Linked DNA regions of Homo sapiens: region 2 is linked to region 1. A link means that fine-mapping ties the variant in region 1 to the expression of a gene that starts in the linked region. Tissue or cell type: whole blood. Region 1 holds a variant in brackets; the other region holds the start of a gene. All regions are shown on one strand. Distances are from middle to middle.

Region 1 (2,756 bases):
ACAGCTGCTTTCTATCTCTACAGATTTGCCCATTCCGGACATTTCCTATAAATGGGATTGTACACCATATGGCCTTTTGTGACTGGCTTCTTTCACTCAGCATAATGTCTTCAAGGTTCATCCATGTTGTAGCATGTATCAGTACTCCAACTGCTTTTATGGATGAATAACATTCCATTGTATGGATATAACACATTTCATTTATCCATGAAAATACTTTGTAAAGGACAGAACAAATGATGCTGTCAGCATCCGTGGGGCTGCTTGGGCAGTATGAACATTTATAAATCATCCTTCTCTGCCCCTTCTACCAGGACTCATGGGCACTGTCCAAACCCTCCCTACCCAGTTGTACGGATTTTCCAAACGCACAGTGGCTCAGGATAGCAGCCCTGAATCTCACAGGCCATGATAGAAATAACTCAAATTCCTTCCGAGGGAATGTTCAGTGCCTCTCAAATTGTGTTATATACATCTCCATGGTTGGTCCTGGTAACCTAAGATGGAAGTGGCAAGGGCAGCACTGGCTTTAGGAACATGCAGCCCGTGCGGTCTCACAGGACCCCATGCTTGCTGAAGGTGCTCTTGTCACCATCTTGAAAGTCTTAATGATTTTTAATCAAGAGGCCTCACATTTTCATTTGCACTGAGCTCAGTAAATTATGTAACTAGTTCTGGGTAAGAGGCAAGGGATTGGGAAGGGGGAAGAATTTGGTGATCTTCCCAAAGCTAGTGGGACTATTACTGCTGTGTTATAACAGCTCATTGGCCAGGTTGAGGGGCAGGTGAGGGGTTGAAGGGAGGTGGAGATAAGCGGATGAGGGGTACCAGCTTCCAAAGAAAGCCCAAGACCATATCTTCCTACGCTGAGGGCTGAACACTTGGCTGATAAGGCCTCCCCAAAACAGCCAGACTAGCTGAAAGCAAACTTGATAAGTCGAGGCGATACAGGCTCAGACTGTCAAGCAGAGGGAACTCAAACTGAAACTTGTTTGATCTTGTGATTGCTTATAGGTTGAGACCAAGAAGAAAAAAGAAAAAAAAAAAACCCACATTTACTAAAGTAACCGGCACTGAGAAAACTTTTTAAATATTTACTTTTTTAAACTGTCACCTTTATTTTCAGCATATCAAGAAAGTCATGGTTTCATCAAAAAGCTGATATTCAATCCAAAGAGGGCAGAATTTCAAATGCAGAGGTCTACATGGATTTCAGTACTAGAAGGGACCTTGGGAACAACCTAGATCACTGGCCCTTGTCTGTCAGAGGCAAAGACCCCCGAAGCCCATCTGCATGGATCCCTAGGAGAGTCGATGCCTAGTCCAATTCTTATTTTATACATGAGGAAGCTGAGGCTGAGAGAGGGGAAGTAACTGTCCAAGGCTACCCACAAAAAAGGGGCAGGACCTAAACCTGGGAGCTTTCAGCTTCCCCTCCCAACCTCCCAATTTTATGAACACAA[C/T]CAAAATTTATATATTGTAGGCTGGGCCGGTGGCTCATACCTCTAATCCCAGCACTTTGGGAGGCCAAGGCAGGCAGATTGCTTGAGTCCAGGAGTTCAAGACTAGCCTGGACAACATAGTAAGACACTGTCTCTACTAAAAATTTAAAAAAAAATAGGCAGGCATGGTGGCATGCACCTGTAGTCCCAAGCTACGCAGGAGGCTGAGGTGGGAGGATCAATTGAGCCCAGCAGGTAGAGTCTGCAGTAAGCCGTGATGGCACCACTGCACTCCAGCCTGGGTGACAGAGTGAGGGCTTGTCTCAAAAAAAAATTTTTTTAATATATTTTGTGTGTACCACCCCCCACAGTCTTTCCCTGGGTCCTCAGCTCATCTTCTAGTACCTGTCTTTTCCTTGCCAGAAAAGGGAGTCTAGGCATGGTAGGTACAAGGGCCACGCAGGATGAATGGAGCTCAGGAAATGTTGCCAGCCTACCATGCCAAAGAGATGGATCCACATGGCCAATGGAAAGCAATGGAGTCTCCACCACCCCAGCCCACTGTGTCCTTTTCCTATAGAGGAGACTAACCAAATCAAACCATCCTTAAAACCAAGGGCCTGGAGGCCTTTCATTTCCATTTGTGTTTATCTTTCCTTCCTCCCCTCCCTCCCACCTTTGCTCCCTTCCTTCTTTCAACAGATAGATACTGGGCACTTACTATATGTCAGGCATGTATTATTTATTTATTTACTTGACAGAGTTTCGCTCTGTCACCCAGGCTGGAGTGCAGTGGCGCAATCACAGCTCACTGCAGCCTTGACTTTCCAGGCATCAACAATCCTCCCACCTCAGCCTCCCAAGCAGCTGGGACCACAGGCGTGTGCTACCACACTTGGATAATTTTTGTATTTTTGGTAGAGACAGAGTTTCGCCATGTTGCCCATGCTGGTCTTGAAATCCTGAGCCCAAGCGATCCACCCACTTTGGCTTCCCAAAGTGCTGGGATGACATGGGATTACAGGTGTGAGCCATCACGCCCAGCCTGTGCCAGGCATGTTGTAGGTTCTGGGGACAGAGTAGTGAACAAAACAGAACAAGTTTTGGTGTTTACGTTCCACAGGGAGGAGACAAAGAAAGAGTTAAATAAATATCTATATGCCATGCCAGACGGTGATAAAGGCTCTAGAGAAAAGGAATACAGGAGGAGAGGGATCGAGAATGGTGAGGAAGGAGGGCATTTTATCTACGACGGTTGGGGCAGAGGTCTCTGGGGGAAGAGTGGAGTCAGCCATGCAGATACCTGGGGGAAGA
Region 2 (2,756 bases), 73 kb after region 1:
TTTCCACAAAGCTGGCTCTAACAGGCCGGTAGAAGACACACGGAGGAACCAGAAAGCGTTTTCTTGTAACCTAAGGATGGCAGGCGCACATGCTCCAGTCCAGTGCTGGCCAGAGGCTGCCTGCCAGGTGCTCTCGGCCTCCGCTGGTGAAGGAGTGGTTTGGTTGGTTTTTAATATCTGTTTCTTAAGACCACCGGCAGTAACTTCCCAGTCTCCCAAACTGAAGTTGGGGAGTGAAGGAACAGGTTTACCCCCTTACACATTTCTCCCATCTGGGTGGCCACACTAACTTCTGGGGAGTACCCAGCCCCCACAGAGCCCGCAGGCGCGTATACATACACATATGTATCATGTCAAAAACCCCAAAAGGCAGAGTCCTGCGGTTTCTTAGCTGGAGAATGAAGCCTTTATAACATCACAACCTCAAATGCAAGCCCACCATCACTACCTTTAAGCCAGGGTTGCCAATTATAGCGCCCACCTCATCCCTCCCCCTTTGCTGGGATGCTGTGCAGCCCGGAGAGGGAAGAAGGGAAGAAGGGAGAAGGCCTGCTTGCATAGTGAAAGTAAAGGGGGGGGAGACTTCTCCTTCTGTCTCCCCACTCTTCCCTCCCCACTTCGCCCCACCCCCGTCTTCTCGAGGAGCATCCCCAAACTAATTTTTTAAAAATGAAACTTAATAAGCTTCTTGCCTACCTTGGCTGTTTCTGCAACAAGTGCATGGGCAATCCGACGAGAAGACCAGTATCCGCTTGGGGGGTGAGATGGGGGGCGAGCAGAGCTGATGGAGTAATTTCAATATTAATTTATGTCAGCCGCCTTCTCTCAGCGCTACTCACTTACTGTACTGCCCTCAGCCTGTAAACAAATATCGCTCCGCCAGGAAACATACTCCCCAGATGCAAGCCCCTCTCCCCAGCAGGGAACCTGGCCCCTCGTCCCCCCGACAAGAGTGTGCTCCCCCACCCAGGGTAGGAAGCTTTGGGTTTCCAAAGCACCAACCCACCACCTCCTCCACCACCCCAGCAAGAAACTTACTCGGTCCGTCTACGCCTCCACCCTCCCTTCAGGAAATCTACTCTCCATATGCATTCAGCCTCCCCGCAGGAAATCTGCTCCCCCCTCCCCCCTTCTATATACATGCACCCCTCCCTCTCCTCCTCCCCATGCGCCCTCCCCGGCCAGAAACTTACTAGTGAGCAAGCGTGCAGGCTCTCCTGATGCTGGAAACTTACTCCCAGATATAGCGCCCGCCAGCCCCCTTTCCCAGCCCTGCTCCCCTTCCTGCCCTCCGCCGCAAGCAACTCCAAACTCTCCGCATCCAGCCGTTCTCCCTCCCCAGTGGAAATTTGCAGCGCCGGGCTGCGCGCGTGCATCCACCCTCCCCTTCAGGAAACTTACTCCCCATCTGCATGCACCGCCTCTCAGCCATCGCTTAGAGGGAAGGGGGTGTGCTGGGGAGACAGAAATACATATGTATCTCTCGCCCCTCCCCCGGTCGCAGCCCACTCGGGGCCGAGCCGCGGTAACCTGGCCTTACCTTTGCATTGCTCCCCATCCTCGCCCCCTCCCTTAACCCTCCTTATCCGCTCCCCGGTACCCCCCTTTTTTCACCCATTACCCACCCCTAGCAACCGTTCCCAAGCTCCTCTCGGCCTTTTTTTTTTTTTTAAATCCAGGATGCAAATTCCTCCCTTGTCAGCAAATCGACTGTCAAATTATTTTCTTGCAAAAGGAGAAAGGCGGGGTGGGGGGGGGGAGCAGGAGCAAAAAGAGGGGGAGGGCGGGGGAAGGGAGGGGGAAGGGAGGGAGAGGGACCGAGGAGGGGAGATATCCCTCCGCAGAGCTGGGTCTGGCCGCGGGCGGGGAAGCAGGAAGTAAGGTGTCCAGCGCCGCGACCGGCTGGTCGTCCGCCTCGGCCCCCGCCCGCGTCCCCTTTCCCCCGGGGCGCAGCGCTACGGCGGGCGCGGGCCGCCCGGCGCATTGTTCGCAGCCTTCGCGGCGGTGCGCTGCTGACTTTATTTGTGCGCTTTGCGTGTGCGTGAGGTTGCACCTTTTGTAGGCTGGCGAGTCTCTGGACGAGGATGGGACGGGGGACACGGGCCCAGTTGCGGCCCTGCGCGAGCGGGACCTGTCAGCCCTGAGGTGCAGCGGACCCTCCGGCATGGCCGGAAAATCGAGGCCGGGGAGAAGGCAGCGTGGCCGGGAAGCTGCCGCCTTAAACCCGGACCAGTGCAGGATTGCTTCCTGCGTAGCCGTCCCGGTTATTGTAACACGCTTTGCAAGCTAACGACTGGGGTTTGTGAGGGGGTTTGTTTATTTTTCTAAGTGTTTGCAAAGATGCCGAGGTCGAGGCGGGCTGCGAGGAGACGGTCCGCGCCTACCCCCACCGCACCCTGGCCTCGGTGGGGCTGGGAGAGGGCTGGGGCTCCGGAGAAGGGGCTGGAGGTTCGCGAAGCGCGCGTCTCCATCCCTCCGCCCCGATGGGGGCGGGGAAGGGGTGCAGTAGACCGCGCTGGAAGAGCAGCTCTCTGGGGAGGGGTCTCCCTTGCCGCGGCAGGCGCAGCAGGCCGGGGAGGGGGGTTGCCTAGGAGAGGGGCCGGGCGGCGGAGGGGAGGGGAGGAGAGGGGGCGCGGGTGCAGCCGCCGCGCGCGCTCGCCCCTCCTCGCGCGCCATGACTGTGGAACGTGGTGCCGGGGAGGAGGGACGGCCACCGGGGGCCGCCCGGGGCTGCTCGGCATTGGTGCGGAAACCCG

What was found. PIP is the estimated chance that this variant, and not a neighbour inherited with it, causes the effect.
Region 2: it holds the start of TRERF1, and the variant in region 1 is fine-mapped to the expression of TRERF1 in whole blood (TOPMed, PIP above 0.99).

What each region holds. Positions count from the first base shown.
Region 1 is chr6:42,377,353-42,380,108 of GRCh38, forward strand. All of the region lies in intron 2 of TRERF1 (transcriptional regulating factor 1), which reads right to left. Among named protein-coding and RNA genes, the nearest start is that of TRERF1, 73 kb to the right of the region's middle. The variant C/T (reference allele first, on the strand shown) is at 1,464.
Region 2 is chr6:42,450,481-42,453,236 of GRCh38, forward strand. It overlaps TRERF1 (transcriptional regulating factor 1), which reads right to left and starts at 1,446. Exons shown (of 18, transcript NM_001395490.1): 1 at 1,194-1,446; 2 at 697-781. LOC124900214 (arf-GAP with GTPase, ANK repeat and PH domain-containing protein 2-like) reads left to right here and starts at 1,880. Exons shown (of 4, transcript XM_047419627.1): 1 at 1,880-2,756. The coding sequence starts at 2,341. It overlaps LOC107986596 (a long non-coding RNA gene), which reads left to right and starts at 1,880. Exons shown (of 5, transcript NR_171668.1): 1 at 1,880-2,145. RefSeq lists silencers at 1,911-1,990, 2,461-2,756.